Regions from separate parts of the Homo sapiens genome. Here regions 1 and 2 are each linked to region 3. The links come from fine-mapping of genetic effects on gene expression. A gene starts in region 3. Each other region holds a variant in brackets. All regions are shown on one strand. Distances are between the middles of the regions.

Region 1 (5,870 bases), 37 kb after region 3:
GAGGCCAGTCTGAGCTCAGCCTTTTTTTTCAGAGGGACGTGGGCACCCTAGAAGGGTGGTAAGTAGGCGAGTGGCAGAGTTAAAAGGTCTCTGGCTGCCGAGGCGGGTGGCGACGGGGCCGGCCGTTGCTGTTGTTTGGCTGAGTGGTGGACAGGGTCAAAGCCATTCCAAGGTCGACTTGACAGGGCTTGGTAATGTGGGAGGGAGGGAGAAAGAAGCAAGGGGCTAATGGCCGGGGTGATACCACTGGCAGAGATGTGGAAGAGTGGGAGAAGCTAGCTTGGAAGGTTAACTTTGATTTTGAACACCTTGTGTTTGAGAATCCTGACAAACCTTAGACCCCCTGAATTTTCTCTCAGGGATTCTGATTCTTAGCAGCCTGATTGCAGAGGAGGAAAAATGGCTGGGGTTGAGCCAGACAGTTCTGGGCAAGGAGTGAGCATTCGCTTGTTTATTGAGGAGGCTGCTGCCTGGGCCACACTCCCTCCGCCAGCTGCCAGGTTCCTGCCCCGGTTGAACCCGGTTTTCTGGCCATCCCTTTCCACCTGTGAGCTGCTCTTCATACTTCCATTTGCTTATACAGCCCAGAGCCGATTTCTGTTACAGCAGCCCAGAGAAACATGAATAGGGAATAATTCTTTTTTTTTTTTTTTGAGACGGAGTCTTGCTCTGTTGCCCAGGCTGGAGTGCAGTGGCACGATCTCGGCTCACTGCAACCTCCGCCTCCCAGGTTCAAGTGATTCTCCTGCCTCAGCCTCCCTAGTAGCTGGGATTACAAGCACATGCCACAACGCCCAGCTAGTTTTTGTATTTTTAGTAGAGACCGGGTTTCGCTATGTTGGCCAGGCTGGTCTCGAACTCCTGTCCTCAGGTGATCCACCCGCCTCGGACTCCCAAAGTGCTGGGATTACAGGTGTGAGCCACTGTGCTTGGCCCGAATCAGGAATAATTCTGATGGCTAAGGAAGACAGCTTCCGAGAGAGTAGGAGAAAGGGCACAGGATTCCAGGCAGAAGGCCCATCTAGGGCAAAGGCGAAGGTGTGGCTCAGCCTGCCTCCTTTGGGGAATGGCGAGTGTGTTCTGGGCTCAGGGTTCTTGGTAAGGGACAGAGAAGACTCGGGAAAGATCAGTTGAGCTGGAATGTGCAGGCTCTTGAGTACCCTGCTCAGGAGCTGGAGGTGGGCTACCCTGCAAACTCCAGGCCATGAAGCCCAGGAAGATGTCAGGCTGGTCTTCCCATGCCCTTGTGTATCTGAGACCAACTGTCACTAAATGTTTCCTTTACGCCCTGGACACACAGCTAGACTCTACTTCTCAGATTCTCTTGAAATACAAGTCTTTAGCCAGAGGGTGTGGAGGGAAATGCTGTGTATCACTTTGAGGTTGAGGCCATCAAAGCCTCCCACAGGTGGCCCCCTCTTTCTCTCCCCACGTACTTATGATGTTGATGCCCAAGGCAGCTTGAGTACTACCTGCTGAAGGCAGGGCCTCTGTCACCATAGATCCTTGAATAACAGTATGGAGCAGAGCCCTCATCTCAGCCAACTGGATTTTATCTGACCAACAGTCCAGCTTCTATTGGGTTGAGCCATGAGGTTTCAGGATTTATGTTATGGCTGCTAGCTTTTATTAATGCAGACCTGCAGACCTATGGGACATGGGGAACTAATTGGGGTTTGGGTTGTCATCAGAGGTTTATTTATTTTTTTAAGACAGGGTGTTGCTCTGTCACCTAGGCTGGAATGCAGTGGGTCAATCATGGCTCACTGCAGCCTCAATCTCTCAGGCTCAAGTAATCCTCCCAACTCAGCCTCCAGAGTAGCTGGGGCCACAGGCAAGTGCCACCACGCCTGGCTAATTTTTTTTTTTTAATTTTGTAGAGATGGGGTCTCACTGCACCACCCAGGCTGGTCTCGAACTCCTGGGCTCAAGACCTCCCAAAGCACAGGCATTACAGGCGTGAGCTACCATGCCCAGCAGTCTCCAGAGGTTTATACCCTGGTTTACCACTGTTGTTCCTCATCTCACTATTTTAACCCAGAACAAATGAGATAAAAGAACTTTAATGCTGAATTTTGATGTTAATTGAAAGCTAGCTTGTTGGAAACTCTGTTTACTGCTATCTCAGGACGGGGTGAGCTGATGTCCCCAGAAGACTACCAAAACGCAGGCACCTTCCCAGGGGAGGCTTACTGGCACCCAAACAGGTAGAGGTCTCTGGAAATACTTTTGGAAGCTGAAGAACGCTCTGATATGGAATGTAACATTTTGCAGGCAGAGGTGTACTCTTTTTTTTTTTTTTTTTTTGAGACAGAGTCTCGGTCTCCCAGGCTGGAGTACAGTGGCACCATCTTAGCTCACTGCAACCTCCATCTCCTGGGTTCAAGCGATTCTCCTGCCTCAGCCTCCTGAGTAGCTGGGACTACAGGCACGTGCCACCACACCCGGCTAATTTTTGTATTTTTAGTAGAGGCAGGGTTTTGCTGTATTAGCCAGGATGGTCTCGATCTCCTGACCTCGTGATCTGCCCGCCTCGGCCTCCCAAAGTGCTGGGATTACAGGTGTGAGCCACCGCGCCCGGCCCCAAGAGGCATACTCTTATAGCTCATGAAGACTTGAAGGAGGTGAGGAGCCTCTGCCCTGGGAATCCTCTCATGCACTTT[C/T]AAGGTTTTAACTGTCTTCAAAACTGTTAGAAGGAGCCTAGATCTCTCCTTAGCTTTTCATTTATATTTTCAAGAGTCTGAGACATTTTCACAGCTATTTCTTATAGGCAAGTCAAATTCAACATTTAAAGACCTAATTTAATCACCCAATCACCCAATATAGAAAATATGAGTTATCTTTGATTCCTCCTGATTAGACTTGTCAGTCCTACGTTTGACATTCCAAGCTCCTTAATTCTACTTTCCTATGGCACTGCCTTAGTTTAAGCCGCTCATTTCTTCCAGCTCCACCACCACCAGGAGCACTTCTCCAGCGGGTCTCCTTGCTTCCACTGTTACTGCGTCCTACTTTGTTCTAACGCCACCCTGGTTAGCCAGTGATCCCTTAAAATTAGGACAGATTATGCCACCCTCTGTTCAAAGCCCAACAGCTTCCCCCGTCATTCAGAAAATCCAGAATCTGGCCTACGAGGCCCTTGTTACCCCGATCTAGCTGCCCCGCTTGCTCTTCCCATCCCTGACTCCACACTAGCCACATCCTTCATCACAGCAGACACCGCTCGCAAAGCTTTGGCTCTTGCTGTTCCTTCAGCCAGGAATACTCTGCCCTTAGGTACGGAACATGAGGGACATGAGGGACATGACTTGCTCCTCGTCTCCTTCAGGCCTGTGGTCAAAGGACCCCAATCAGGAAGGCTTGCTTTTGCCACTGTCTGAAATTGCCACCCACCTCTCCTTTTGTCTCTCCACTTACTTTTCCTCTTTTTTTTTTTTTGAGACGGAGTCTTGCTCTGTCGCCCAGGCTGGAGTGCAGTGGCGCGATCTTGGCTCACTGCAAGCTCCACCTCCCAGGTTCACGCCATTCTCCTGCCTCAGCCTCTCCCAGTAGCTGGGACTACAAGCACCCACCACCACACCTGGCTAATTTTTTGTATTTTTAGTAGAGACAGGGTTTCACCGTGGTCTTGATCTCCTGACCTTGTGATCCACCTGCCTTGGCCTCCCAAAGTGCTGAGATTACAAGCGTGAGCCACTGCGCCCAGCCCATGGTGTCTTATAAGTGTCTTATATAAGGGTACCATTTTTTTTTTTTTTGAGACGGAGTCTCGCTCTGTTGCCCAGGCTGGAGTGCAGTGGTGCCATCTTGGCTCAGTGCAAGCTCCGCCTCCTGGGTTCACGCCATCCTCCTGCCTCAGCCTCCCAAGCAGCTAGGACTACGGGCGCCCGCCACCATGCCTGGCTAGTTTTTGTATTTTGTTTAGTAGAGACACTGTTTCACCGTGTTAGCCAGGATGGTCTCGATCTTCTGACCTCGTGATCCACCTGCCTCGGCCTCCCAAGGTGCTGGGATCACAGGCGTGAGCCACTGCACCTGGCCATAAGGGTGCCATTTTTAATCTTTTATATAACATTTTTACTATACCTTTTCTATGTTTAGACAAGTTTAGATACACAAAGACTTCCCATTGTATTACAGTTGCCTACAGTATTCAGTATGGTAACATGTTGTAAAGGCATGCGGCCTAGGAGCAACAGGGTAAGCAGCATAGCCCAGGTCTGTAGTAGGCTGCACCATCTACCTTTGTGTAAATGCACTCTAGAATCTTTGCACAACAAAATCGCCTAACAATGCACTTCTCAGAATGTATCCCCTTCATTAAGCAACCCATGCCTGTACTTGGTAAGTGGATTATCCCAAAAGCCTCCTGGTTTCCTGCCAGCTGCTCTGTCCCCTGACCACACCTGCCTCACCCAGCAGTGAATTCGACATGGGCAGGAATAGGACCTTGTTTACCACTGAATCCCCAGCACAGGGCCAAGTCTATGGTGGGTGTTCAACAGACACTGGTTCCTGGCCGGGCACGGTGGCTCACGCCTGAAATCCTAGCACTTTGGAAAGTCGAGGTGGGAGGATCACTTAAGCTCAGGAGTTCGAGACCAGCCTGGGCAACATAGTGAGACCCTATCTCATGGGAAAAAAAAGAAAAAAACAAAAACAGATGAAGACACTGGTTCCTAAATGAAGGTCCAGAACTGAATCTAATTCACTTCAATTACAGTAATTGAGGGCCTACTTATACTTTTCATAAAAATTATTTTTTATGGCTGGGTGCGGTGGCTCACACCTATAATCCCTGCACGTTGGGAGGCTGAGGCAGGTGGATCACCTGAGGTCAGGAATTCGAGACCAGCCTGGCCAACATGGTAAAACCCTGCCTCTACTAAAAATACAAAAAATTAGCCGGGCGTGATGGCGGGCGCCTGTTGTCCCAGCTACTCAGGAGCTGAGGTACGAGAATCGCTTGAACCCAGGAGGCAGAGGTTGTAGTGAGTCGAGATCGTGCCACTGCACTCCAGCCTGGGCAACAAGAGCGAAACTCCGCCTTAAAAACAAAGAATAATTATTTTGTATTTACTCTTAACATGATTTTAGCAGCCGAGCCAACCTCAGTGAAGGAGTGTCTGTTGCTACAGGTCATCCTGCGTGCCCTCTTGCAGACATGACCACCTGGCGCCTCAAGACTTCAGGCCTGGGCCTGCAGCCCCTTTCCATGCTGACAAGAAGCTGCGGGGCCCGTGCAGGGTTGTGCCTCAGCCAAGAGGGGTGCCTCACACATGCCCCTGCATGGGAGGAGGTGGGCTCACTCTCCAGCAGACAGACAAACAGAAATGGCCCCAGGGAACAGGTGAAGGTTCTGAGGCAAGTATTTATTCCAAGCAAACACGTGGGCGTGGACAGCTATCTCAGAGCCTACGTCACTCAGCAGAGTCACACATTTCAAAGCAGGTCACACAAGTCCCTCATGAACAGTCTTCCAGCTTCAGCCCTTCTCTTGCCACCTCTGTGGTCTGAGCTGGGGGAGGGGGAGGGCCTCCGAGTTCCCAAACAAAACACAGGTACCTAAGGGCTGAGAGAAAATTACACAGCCTTATTTTTATTAGTATCTATCAAGAAAAAAAAAAATCAAAATTCCCTTCCTGCTCCAACCCCACCTCCACCACCTGGGCCCTCAGGGAGCAGCATCTGCCCAGCGAGGACCTGCTGCCGGAGCTGTCCTTGGAGCCTGGGCACCTGTGCACGGCCACCCCTCATGCCTGTGAGCTGCCACAGGTCCCTTCCTCCACAGTGTGGGGACGAAAGGGCAGCTGGCATTTCTCCAACCTTCAGCTGTAGGCCTTGGGAACTTGGAAAAGATCAGCAATGTC
Region 2 (6,424 bases), 120 kb before region 3:
TGCCCCCCAAAAATAAACCTACTGAAATTTTGATGAGGTTTGCATTGGCTGTAGTTGGGTCTGACAAACTGTGGTCCACAGGCCAAAAGCAGCCATCACTGATTGTGTGAGTGAGGTCTTAGTGTAGCACAGCCACTTCCATTCCTGTGCACGCTGCCCGGGGCTCCTTTCACACCACAGCAGCACAGCTGGTAGCTCAGGCTACTTTGATTTCTCAGAAATACACTGCAGTTCTCTGTATGGCAGTCTTAAGCATCTTTCACTAGATTTATTCTTAGGTATTTGATATCTTTGTATTATTTTGAGTGGTGTCTTTTTTTTTTTTTTTTTTTTTTTTTGAGACGGAGTCTTGCTCTGTCGTCCAGGCTGGAGTGCAGTGGCGCAATCTTGGCTCACTGCAACCTCCACCTCCTGGGTTCAAGCGATTCTCATGGATTCTCGTGCCTCAGCCTCCCGTCTGGGGGATAGAGTGAGATTCTGTCTCCAAAAAAAAGAAAAAAGAACCTCTTATTTTTTTCAAGCCCATAATGATCAATGTATCATATTCACATACATCAGTATTCTAGTTGTGATATTATACTGGTGTTTTAGAAAATGTCACAATTGGAGGAAACATGTCAAAGCATACAAGGATTTTGTTTTTGTTTTCGTTTGAGACAAAGTCTCCCTTTTGTCTCCCAGGCTGGAGTGCAGGGGCACAATCTCGGCTCACTGCAACCTCCGCCCCCTGGTTCAAGTGATTCTCCTGCCTCAGCCTCCCGCGTAGCCAGGATTACAGGTGCCTGCCCCCATGACCCGCTAATTTTTGTATTTTTAGTAGAGATGGGGTTTCACCATGTTGGCAAGGCAGTCTTGAACTCCTGACCTCAGGTGATCCACCGGCCTTGGCCTCCCAAAATGCTGGGATTACAGGTGTGAGCCCCCACACCCGGCCTTTAAATGGTATCTTTTTAATTGAAATTTTGACTGAGATTACTGTATTTACATGAGGTTGTATGAAATAATATGAAGAAAATCCTTGGCCAGGAGCAGTGGCTCACTCCACCCAACACTTTGGGAGGCCGAGGTGAGTGGATCACTTGAGCCCATGAGTTTGAGAGCAGCCTGGCCAACATGCCGAAACCCCGTCTCTACTAAAAATATAAAAATTAGCTGGGTGTGGTGGCACACGCCTGTAATCCCAGCTCCTTGGTGGGGCTGAGACAGGAGAATCACTTGAACCTGAAGGCGGAGGTTGCAGTGAGCCAAGATTGGGCCACTGCACTCCAGCCTAGGTAACAGAGCGAGACTCTGTCTCCAAAAAAAAAGAAAAAAGGCCAGGCGTGCTGGCTCACACCTGTAATCCCAGCATTTTGGGAGGCCAAGGCAAGCGGATTATCTGAGGTCAGGAGTTTGAGACCAGCCTGGCCCAACATGGTGAAACCCTGTCTCTACTAAAAATACAAAAATTAGCTGGGCGTGGTGGCCGGCACCTGTAATCACAGCTACTCAGGAGGCTGAGGCAGGAGAATCACTTGAACCCGAGGGTGGAGGTTGCAGTGAGCCGAGATTGTGACTCTGCACTCCAGCCTGGGCGACAAAGGGGAGACTGTCTCAAACAAAAACAAGGCCTGGCGCAGTGGCTCACGCCTGTAATCCCAGCACTTTGGGAGGCCGAGGCGGGCGGATCACAAGGTCAGGAGATCGAGACCGTCCTGGCTAACACGGTGAAACTCTGTCTCTACTAAAAATACAAAAAATTGGCTGGACGTAGTGATGGGTGCCTGTAGTCCCAGCTACTCGGGAGCCTGAGGCAGGAGAATGGCATGAACCCAGGAGGCGGAGCTTGCAGTGAGCCGAGATTGCGCCACTGCACTCCAGCCTGGGCCAGAGTGAGACTGCATCTCAAAAAAACAAACAAAATCCTTGTATGCTTTGACATGTTTCCTCCAATGGTGACATTTTCTAAAACACTAGTAGAATATCACAACTAGAATATTGATGTGAATGTGTGAATATGATCCATCGATCATTATGGGCTCAAAAAAAATAGAGGTTATTTTTTCTTTTTTTGGAGATAGACTCTCACTCTATCCCCCAGGCTGGAGTGCAGTGGTGTGATCTCGGCTCACTGCAACCTCTGCCTCCTGGGTTCAAGCAATTCTCATGCCTCAACATTCCGAGTAGCTGGGATTACAGCCACCCACCACCACGTCTTGCTAATTTTTATATTTTTAGTAGAGACCATGTTGGCCAGGCTGGCCTTGAACTCCTGAGATCAAGTGATCCGCCTGCCTTGACCTCCCTCAAGTGCCAGGATTACAGGCATGAGCCACCATGCCCAGCCTGGGGTTATTTTTTCTTAAATGTTTGGAAGAATTTATTAGGCCATTAAACCTTCTCTGTATAGAGAGCCTATTAATTATAGATTTTGTGGAGTTTTAGTATGTTCTGGAACTATTCTGATTTTGTTTCTTGTCAGTTTAAATAAGTCCTTTTTTTTTTTTTTTTTTTTTTTTTTTTTGAGACGGAGTCTTGCTCTGTCACCCAGGCTGGAGTGCAGTGGCGTGATCTCGGCTCACTGCAAGCTCTGCCTCCTGGGTTCATGCTATTCTCCTGCCTCAGCCTCCCGAGTAGCTGGGATTACACGTGCCCACCACCATGCCCGGCTAATTTTTTTTGTATTTTTAGTAGAGACGGGGTTTCACCATGTTAGCCAGGATGGTCTTGATCTCCTGACCTCAGGTGATCCACCTGCCTCGTCCTCCCAAAGTGTTGGGATTACAGGTGTGAGCCACTGCGCCTGGCCTAGATAAGTC[C/CT]TTTTTTTTTTGTTTTTTTTTTTGAGACAGAGTTTTGCTCTTGTTGCCCAGGCTGGAGTGCAATGGTGCGATCTTGGCTTACCGCAATCTCCGCCTCCCAGGTTCAAGCAATTCTGCCTCAGCCTCCCGAGTAGCTGGGATTACAGGCATGCACCACCACGCTTGGCTAATTTTGTATTTTTAGTAGAGACGGGGTTTCCTCCATGTTGAGGCTGGTCTCGACCTCAGTCTGGTCTGACCTCAGGTGATCCACCCACCTCGGCCTCCCAAAGTGCTGGGATTACAGGCGTGAGCCACCGCACCTGGCCAGATAAGTATTTTTTTTCAAGGAAATTTCTTTTCTAAATTTACAAAAACTGGCATAAAATTGTTTCTATTAATTTCTCATAATATAGCAGGTGTGGTGGCTCCTGCTTATTATTACAGCATTTTGGGAGGCTGAGGTGGGAGAATCACTTGAGCTCAGAAGGTGGAGGCTGCAGTGAGTTATGATCGCACCACTGCACTCCAGCCTGGGGGACAGAGTAAGACCTTGTCTCAAAAACATAAAAACAAAACTACAAACCTCTCATAATAGTTTTTATTTCTGTAGGATCTTTGGCGATGCCCCTTGTTTCATTCTTAATATTGTTATTTGTACCTTCTGTTTTGTCCTTCGTCTTTCTAGAAGTTTAATCATCCTTTTCAAAGAGCCATCCTCCTCTCCTCCTCCCCTACCCCCTCCTCTTCCTTCTTCCCCTTCTCTTTTCCCACCACTCCTTTTCCTACTGTCCCTCCTCATTGCAGCACTGGGGAGTGAGGCTGAGGCCCTGCAGCCAGGTGGGCCTTCTCTGTGTTCCCATTGTTTCCAGTGGAGGGCTGGGTCTACCCCAGCCCCCAGCCCAGTAGCCTGGACATAGCAGACACTTATTTCTGTAGGCTGAGTTGAGCTGAATTTGCAGCGAGCCCAGCCTTCACTTCTCCACTGTTACCTTGGATCCGCCGTCTGAGCAGCCCACTGCGTCTGTGATGGGTGCTGTGCCCCCCCATGGCCTCACGCTTAGCTGTCTACACCTTGTTGGCACTGGTCATCAGCCAGCTGCAGGATGCCTCTTTTTCTTTTCTAAAACCTCAGTCTTCTTTCCCCTTCAACCGCTCATGGGTTTTGGTCAGCAGCTGGCGTCTTGTGCACTCTGTGCTCCCTGGATGTGTGTTCTAGGCCTGGGGCTGCCAGTGATGGCCATCAGCTCAGCTCAGCTCTGTCTATACCATTCGTTTCTGTTGGAAAAACCCGAACCAGTAGGTATTGGATGGCAGCTGCTCACGGCAGCCTGTGCTGCCCCACCTGGGACAGCTGTGTCCTGTCGGTGCAGAGCCACAGGGGTCCCTGTGCAGTGGCCCCCCCCCCCCCCCCCCCGCCCAGACCCTCACATACACCACTGCCTGGTAGGACTCTGCCTGTCCCTTGAGGGGGCTTTCTTACAATCTTGTCTGGGTCTTTCCGTTATTTCTGCTTAATATAATTACTAGTTCAACTTTCCCATGAGAGTTTTTGGAGGAGGTGTCTCAGGGTTGTCAGGGTCGGCCCCGCCTGCCTCTCAGGTGTGTGTGATTTCAGGTGATTACGTTTTTGAAGAAGAAGGACAAGTTCATCAGCCTGGTGTTGAAGCACATCGGCACCTCAGCGCTTATGGACCTGCTGCTGCGCCTGGTCAGCTGTGTGGAGCCAGCCGGGCTCCGGCAGGACGTCCTGCACGTGAGTGCGGGAGTCCCCCCCCGTTCCCGAGGGCAGGGGTGCTGCAGGAAGCCAGCTGGTTAAGTGCAGGAGCTCAGAGCACCAGGGCGCCCGGCCCCCATCTCTCCACCTAGCGTGCATTTCTCCGTGGGGCTGTTAGGGGTTCTTGTCAAGGATTGTGGCCTGTACCTTTTCCACTGTCCCGACTTAACTCGCTCAGAAGCACAGAGCAGAGAGGTCCCTTCTCCCCGCAGTCTCCAGCCTCCGGCTCTGTGAAGAGGCCGAAATGGACTTTCCTCGCCTGCCTCCTTTTCCCCTGCCAGCGCCCACCCCTGTGGCTTAGAGCAGGAGGTCAGTGAGGTGCTAGCCCTGCGTCCAGGCCTGTGCCTGCCAGGAGAGCCCCGGTGGACAGCAGTTCCCTGCAGAGCCCCGTTGTTTACCCTGGAGTGTGGATGCGTCTGTTCTGATGGTGTTTAGTCAGTGAGAACAGGTGCTACAGTTCCCGAAAAGAGGAGGATGCCCCCCAGATAAGCCCAGGAAATCCGTGCTGACAAACTTCTGCTCACTGTTCGGCCAGCTTTGTTTGTGGTGAAGTTTAAAATAGAGTAGAGTAAACCCTGAGGCGCTCTGCCTGTTTCCCAGCTCCTGGAATCAGGACTCATCCGATGACCACTCTCACTCTTAGGTTAGTAATGCTTCCTCAGGGAGGAGCTTCTCACCAGGAATGACTGACCGCCACCAACCTTTACACAGTGGACACAGGATCAGTACTAGCTGTGGTCATAGCCGTTAGTGGGAAGCCTGCAGAACTGTACGTCAGGCAGCCTTTTAGCTGCTTTACTTGATTCACTTCACGAAGTAGCCACGGGGGGACAGCTCATCCCATTTTTGGATAAGGAATTTAGGCACAGGGCGCAGCAGTGCGGTGCGGTAGCCAGGTACGGCCCAGGCCTGCCAGACCCCGACACTCACACTGGGCCCCCGTTGCCCTTGAGCTTTACCCCACAGTGTTCGTGTAGCCTCTCCAGGGTGGAGTTACTCTTCCTCAACATGGGAAGGCCCCAGTGCTGCAGGGAACAGCTGAGGCTTCTCTGGCTTCAGCATCCAGCGGGGCTCCTGAGCTATAGCTTGTGTGGCTCATTTGCACCCTGGTCCTTAAGAGAGAAGTCCTGAAGACAGAGCTTACATACGCACCATTAGGACAGAGGGATGGTGGTCATCCTTTATCATCTTTTGAGCCACTCCCAGAACCTCCCAGAACTCAGTCATTGTGTGTTATGTGTGTTCTTTCTGGGTCTGGGGTGTGTCAGGCAAAGAGTCTATATTCTAGAAAACGGGTGCAGTGCTGCACCAAAGGGGAAAGGTTCCTGTTGTTTACTTAGACTTGAGCAGCGACACTGAAAGGCCTCTTTTTCTCTTTCAGTGGCTGAATGAAGAGAAGGTCATCCAGAGGCTTGTGGAGTTGATCCACCCGAGCCAGGATGAAGATGTGAGTGTGCTGCTTACCGAGCTTCGTGCATCAGTCCAGGCCTGTGCTGCCAGGTCACCCACTGCTGCGGGCCAGGGGGCGAGGGAGGGCAAGTCATCCCTTTCCTAAGATGAGGATCGGTTAGGTACTTTTCTTTCTTTAATCAAGCACTGACTTCTAGGCTGGATTTTTTTTTTCTTTTTTTTTTTGAGATGGCGTTTCGCTCTTGTTGCCTGGGCTGGAGTGCAGTGGTGCAATCTCGGCTCACCACAACCTCCGCCTCTTGGGTTCAAGCAATTCTCCTGCTCACCCAGTCGGGTGAGCCACCACACCCAGCCTCTAGGCTGTTTTCTTCTTGTTGTTGTTGTTGTTTAAATAGAGATGAGGTCTCACTACATTGCTCAGGCTGGTCTCAAAAACCTGGCCTCAAGTGATCCTCCTACC
Region 3 (5,274 bases):
TGGTCGAACTCCAGCCCCTGCTGCACCCTGGGTTGCCAGCCCCCCAGCATGAAGTCAGGGAAGGATTGGGGTGGGGAAGAGACACGAGTGAAGTGCGACACCTCGCCATGGGGCCAGGAGGAACTTGTACTTGGTCTGGGGCAGGAACGCCACAGAGGGCTTCCCCAGGTCCAGGCCGGGCCAGCCTTGACCTCTAAAGTCACAGCAGGTTAGGAAGCCGTGAAGGAGGGAGGGACTTCGGGCAGAAGAGGGTGGGACTGGGGTTAGGCAGGACTGCTGAGTGGAGGGAGGCAGTGGGGACGGGAGGGGTGAAGGGTAGGCTGGGCCCGCATCAAGACGCTTGCCCAGGGAAAGGCCACACCGCTCACCAGCGTCTTTGCCAGCTCCCGGGCCTGCTCCTGGTTGGGGAAGACGGCGGCCCCTCCGAACTTAACGTCCACCACCAGAGCGGACAGCCCCTCCACGAGTTTCTTACTGAGAATGGAGGCTTTGGGGGAGGCAGAGGAGGTTGGAGACAATGGAGAACCTGGAGCTTCTTGGGAGAGTTCGGGGATGCCGACTTTGGGGTCAGGGGCCCTGAGCATTGAGGGTCAAGTCCCTTATTATGGGGGTGGCAGCACCTGGTGGGTTGAGTATCAGGCCACCCCACATGGTGGTGGTCAGGCATCTTGTGATGGGGGTAGGGGGGCACACGGTCAGGTGACGGGTAACTCCTAACGAGAGGCCCTTGACTTGAGTTTGGAGGTCAGGAGCCTGTGAACATGCAGAAGCAGGCCATGGAGTCAGGTCACCTGTGATGAGTGGCAGGCTGTCCACGGTGGCTGTCACATCTCTGGCTGCATATAGGATTCCGTCCGCAGGAACCAGCTGCTCACTCTGACCCACGATACAGCAGCCCGCCTGGTCCAGCAGCACTTGCATCTGGTCAGACATCCCCTGTTCTCAGTGACTTATGGTAAATGACTTAGCAGCTTTTTTTTTTTTTTTTTTTTTTTCTGTGAAGAGTCTTCCTCTGTTGCCCAGGCTGGAGTGCAGTTGGCACAATTTCGGCTCATTGTGACCTCTGCCTCCTGGGCTTAAGTGATCCTCCCACCTCAGCTTCCCAGTAGCTGGGACTACAGGTGCGCACCACCACACGCGGCTTTTTTTTTTCTTCTTTTTTTTGTAGAGATCAAGTTTCACTATATTACCCAGGCTGATCTCCAACTGGGCTCCTCTGCCTCCCAGAGTGCTGGGACAGGGTCTCACTCTGTTGCCCAGGCTGGAGTGCAGTGGCATCGTCCCGGCTCACTGCAGCCTAGACCTCCCAGGCTCAAGTGATCCTCCTGCCTCAGCCTCCTGAGTAGCTGGAACCACATGCGTGCACCACCACACGCAGCGAACTATTTTGTAGAGATGGGGTTTTGCCGTGTTATCCAGGCTGGTTTTGAACTCCTGGGTTCAAGGGATCTGCCCTCTTCGGCCTCCCCAAGTGCTAGGACTACAGGTGTGAGCCACCGTGCCCCGCCAGCCATCTGTGATTTTGACCAACTTCCCATTTTATGATCCTAATCAAAGTTCCACTGATGATTTCGGCCCAGGCCCAGTGACTCATGAGTAACCTTGACCAGTGTTCTCATTAGTGACCCTAATGATCCACCAGTGATCTTTTAGTGATTCTGGCCAGGGTCTCCATCATCAACCTGGATTAATGACTGATCCGTGGCGCCCCGTACCTGCTCTGGGCTCTGGATGACATTGAATCCAGGAATAGACTCCAGCTTATCCAAGGTGCCTCCTGTGTGCCCCAGACCACGTCCGCTGATCATTGGCACCTGGTGGTCAGGGATGCTGAGTACCCTGCACAGTACCCCTCCCCCACCTCTGTGCATCCCTTCACCTTCCCTGGCTAGGAGTGCAGCTGGATTTGGAAAGTATTTAAGCAGCTATAGGGGTGCCCAGCTGGTGAGGGAATGGAAAGGAAGTTTTCTTGGTTGAGAAGTGTCAGTAGGGGAGGAGGTTGGTACCTGTCCTTGGGGAAACAAGGCTTGGGGCAGAGGGAGGAAAGTCCTCAGCTCCTCCCTTGGGGGAGCTGTCTGGGGACCCAAGGGGAAAGGGGTCTGAATTCCATCAGTGGATCTTTTTCCTGCTCCAAGGGGCCTGGTCTGGAGCCAGAGGGGCCCCAAGCGCTGTGCTGGGGAACGGGGTGGGGAGAACTGTGCTGGGGAGCAGGGTGGGGAGAAGCCTTGGTAGGGTCTTGGAGGCTTTGGGCCAGGCTTGAGGTTGGGAGCTGCCTGTGGATGGACTGGTTGCTGCATGTGCGGTATAGGCTCCCGTCTGGAAAGGAGGTGGTTTCTAACCTTGCAGCCACATGCCGCCAGGGCAGGTGCGAGGACCAGGCTGACCTTGTCACCCACACCCCCTGTGGAATGCTTGTCCACAAGCTGCTGGCGCCAGGCCTCTGGCCACTCCAGCTGCTGTCCCGACTGAGCCAGGGCCTGGGTCAGCACCGAGGTCTCCTCCAGATCCATGCCCCGAAGTCGGATGGCCATCAGCATGGCCCCTGGTATGTGGGGGTACGCGTGAGGGTGGCAGCCCACAGCGGTGGGGCACCCTGGGGCCGGTGCTGGTAGTGGGGCACCGTCGCACCCCCAGGGACCCAAAGTCTCTCGGGCTGACCTCCCAGTCGGGGTCAGGAACGCCCAACCCTCCCCACGCACCGATCTGTGCGCCCTGCGCGCTCCCATTCACCACAGCGGCCACGAAGCCCCTGATGTCCGCTTCGCTCAGGCGGCCTCCGTCTCGCTTCATGCGGATCAGCTCCGGGAGCTGCTTGGGCTCTGGCGAAGGGTCGGGAAGTCCCTGGCTCCCTTCCCCGGAGAAGTCACCAGGCGCGGGTGGGGCCCCGGTTCCCGGGGTCATCAAGGCTGCCATCGCTCCGGGCCTGCGGGGATGCCTGACACGTCCGGGGTCTGCGGCCTCCCGGCGTCGGTGTCTGAGCCACGTGCTCCTGTCCCGACCCCTTTCCCGTGTCTCTCCGGTGTCCGCCCCTCGGTCCCGTGTCTGTGTCGCCCTCGTCCGTGTCTGCCTCCCGCTTCCCCGCCTCGCGACTTGAGCCCCGCCCGTACCTGCTTAGGGCGCTGCCCTCGCCCGCTTGCTCCGGATCCCAGCCCAGGTACCCGGCCTCGCCCGCGGGTCGGGACCGTAGGGTTCAGGGTTCGCGCACAGCGGTCCACTGCCGGCGGCGGGGCGGCGGCGCCCCAGGACGGCAGGCGGGTGGGGCCGCCTGGAGGGCGGAGCTCGGCAGTCGCCGCCCCCGGGAAGCCTTGCACGCCGCGCCCCGGCCAATCCCCCGGTGCCCCCGGACACGCGGAACTTCCGGGCCGTCGGGGCCCGGGGCCGTCGGCGGGGGTGATCCCTGGCCGGTCCCGCCCGGCGTGGGTCTCGGGCGTCTGTGGCTCCCGAGAGTCCCCCTCCCGCCCTCGGTGGGGTCTCGACGTTCGGACGCGGCGCAGCGCTGGGGTCCCGGCCTCGCCCGACGCTCGGGCCCCGCCCCGCTGGGTTCGGAGTTGGGACACGGCCCCAGCCGTGGCTCCACCCCAGGCCTTGCGCCAGGACGCGCAGAGAGAGAGAGAGAGAGGCGGACACGATGCGGACTCGCAGACTTTAAGCAAACACGTGTGGGGCCGCTCCCGCCTGGCGGGTCAGTTGTCCGCGTCGGTCACCAGCGGGGCCAGGTAGTCCGAGTGCCGGATCCCGAAACTCCAGCCGCGGGGCTTCCGGTGCTGCGGGCCCGGAGACACCGCTGACCTCGCGGGGCCGGCATCCTCTCCGCGCCGGGACCCCTGGACCCCCGGGGACTCTGATCCCATCACTCCGACCTCAGGCCCTCCCCACTCTCCTGACTCTGACCCTTGACCCTGGGCTCCAGGCCACCTGATCCACGTTGTAGGCCGCGGGCCCTGGCTTCCGAGTGTTGTCTTGGGGGAGCGAAGTCCGCGCCAGAATCGTGAACTGGGGGGCCCGGGACTTGTAGACCCCTGGACTCACGACCTGATAGGCGCAGGGGCCCGGGGTCTGCGAGAGGGCAGAGGGTGCTGGCTGCCGCCTCCACTGCCGCGGACCAGGGACCCCCTGCGTCCGCCCCGGCCCCTCCCCCACCTTGCTGAGGTCCTCGAAGAAACTGCCAGCCGCTCTGCGGCCGTAGATGGAGCAAGTTGGGGCGGAGACTTTGCCGATGACGCGCGGACCCAAGAGCGAGGGCACCGTATAGGCCGCGGGACCTGGGGAGGAGGCAGGGCTCGGGGGTAGTGGGTCTCCGCGGACAGGCGCAGGGTGGTCCCAGCTCCCGGAGGGCGGTCCCCGGTCTCGAGTGGGAAGGCCCACAGTTCTGGGATGGGCCGTTCTGACCTCACCTGGGCTCTGCTGTTCCGCCTGGACACCCCAGTTTCGGGGAGCAATGGTGTGCCGAGGCGCACTGGGGTACGTCGCGTTCCCCGCTCGCTCCGGGAAGTACCTGCCTGCGGGGCGGATCAAGGGTGTGGGGGGCTAGAACTGCGTGGGAGCCTGGTGGGTACCCGAGATGGGGTCCTGGGACTAGTGGGGAGTCTGAGCCACGATTTATCAAAGCCCCGTGGGGTTCGGGGTTTGGGATTTGAGATCCGGATATGGGGGTACCGAATATGCGGTGTTAGGGTATCCGAGGGGGACTCGGGGTTCAGGTCGGGGGTTCCCAGGTGGGCCTCCCTGGAGGCAGTTCGGCGTTGGGGTGGCCAGGGGCCCGGGGGTCCTGACCAGGTCCCGGAGTGAGGAAGGGCGCTGAGCGGCGTGGGCGGCCGTAGATGGAGTAGGCGGGGGCGCCGTCGGTGCCGCGCACGGTCATGCGAGCGGGCACCAGGTGGCCTGGCCCGGGGCCGCACGTCGTCTGCTGCGTGGGGAAGCGCGCGCCGAAGGTGAAGGCGGGGGCGCGCGGCCGCGACGGGTCATGCAGGGCGTAGCCTGGGAGCATCCGAGTTAGCGTCTGGCCGGGCCCAGCCCCAAGCCCCATCTGCAACACGGACCCTCCCCCGGCACAGACCCCCTCTCCCCTCTAGCAGGCACGGTTCAGCCCCGAGCGCAGGCCTCCCTGGTCTCTTCCCCTTCCCTCCCCCAGGCGCCGTCCCACCCCTCAATCCCGGGGCCTGCCCCTTCTACCGGTGTTGGGCGGCAGCTTGTATTTGGGCCCGGGGCCTCCGTAGTGCGCCGCGATGGGGCCGCGGGGCCGGTGTGGCCGCCAAAGGCCCACCCAGGCGTCCG

Evidence for each region. PIP is the estimated chance that this variant, and not a neighbour inherited with it, causes the effect. A credible set is the group of variants that fine-mapping cannot tell apart.
Region 1: its variant is the best candidate, but not a certain one, in a credible set for the expression of TYMP in whole blood (TOPMed, PIP 0.84).
Region 2: its variant is the best candidate, but not a certain one, in a credible set for the expression of TYMP in neutrophils (BLUEPRINT, PIP 0.75).

The regions. Positions count from the first base shown.
Region 1 is chr22:50,563,510-50,569,379 of GRCh38, forward strand. It overlaps LOC107985568 (a long non-coding RNA gene), which reads left to right. Exons shown (of 2, transcript XR_001755606.3): 1 at 1-58; 2 at 5,098-5,634. It overlaps CPT1B (carnitine palmitoyltransferase 1B), which reads right to left. Exons shown (of 20, transcript NM_152246.3): 19 at 5,827-5,870; 20 at 5,352-5,572. The coding sequence ends at 5,829. CHKB-CPT1B (CHKB-CPT1B readthrough (NMD candidate)) reads right to left here. Exons shown (of 30, transcript NR_027928.2): 29 at 5,658-5,870; 30 at 5,352-5,572. Among named protein-coding and RNA genes, the nearest start is that of SYCE3, 3.5 kb to the left of the region's middle. The variant C/T (reference allele first, on the strand shown) is at 2,664.
Region 2 is chr22:50,410,157-50,416,580 of GRCh38, forward strand. It overlaps PPP6R2 (protein phosphatase 6 regulatory subunit 2), which reads left to right. Exons shown (of 24, transcript NM_001242898.2): 5 at 4,396-4,533; 6 at 5,936-6,001. Among named protein-coding and RNA genes, the nearest start is that of MIR12114, 5.9 kb to the left of the region's middle. The variant C/CT (reference allele first, on the strand shown) is at 2,799.
Region 3 is chr22:50,526,797-50,532,070 of GRCh38, forward strand. TYMP (thymidine phosphorylase) reads right to left here and starts at 3,216. Exons shown (of 10, transcript NM_001953.5): 1 at 3,108-3,216; 2 at 2,700-2,923; 3 at 2,340-2,542; 4 at 1,716-1,814; 5 at 792-921; 6 at 369-487. The coding sequence starts at 2,913. It overlaps CIMAP1B (ciliary microtubule associated protein 1B), which reads right to left. Exons shown (of 7, transcript NM_001014440.4): 2 at 5,173-5,274; 3 at 4,774-4,977; 4 at 4,395-4,499; 5 at 4,141-4,262; 6 at 3,916-4,056; 7 at 3,630-3,764. The coding sequence ends at 3,684. RefSeq lists enhancers at 1-203, 12-583, 374-573, 594-743, 2,464-2,623 and 1 more and silencers at 3,004-3,053, 3,064-3,913, 3,924-4,153, 4,314-4,423, 4,774-4,933 and 2 more.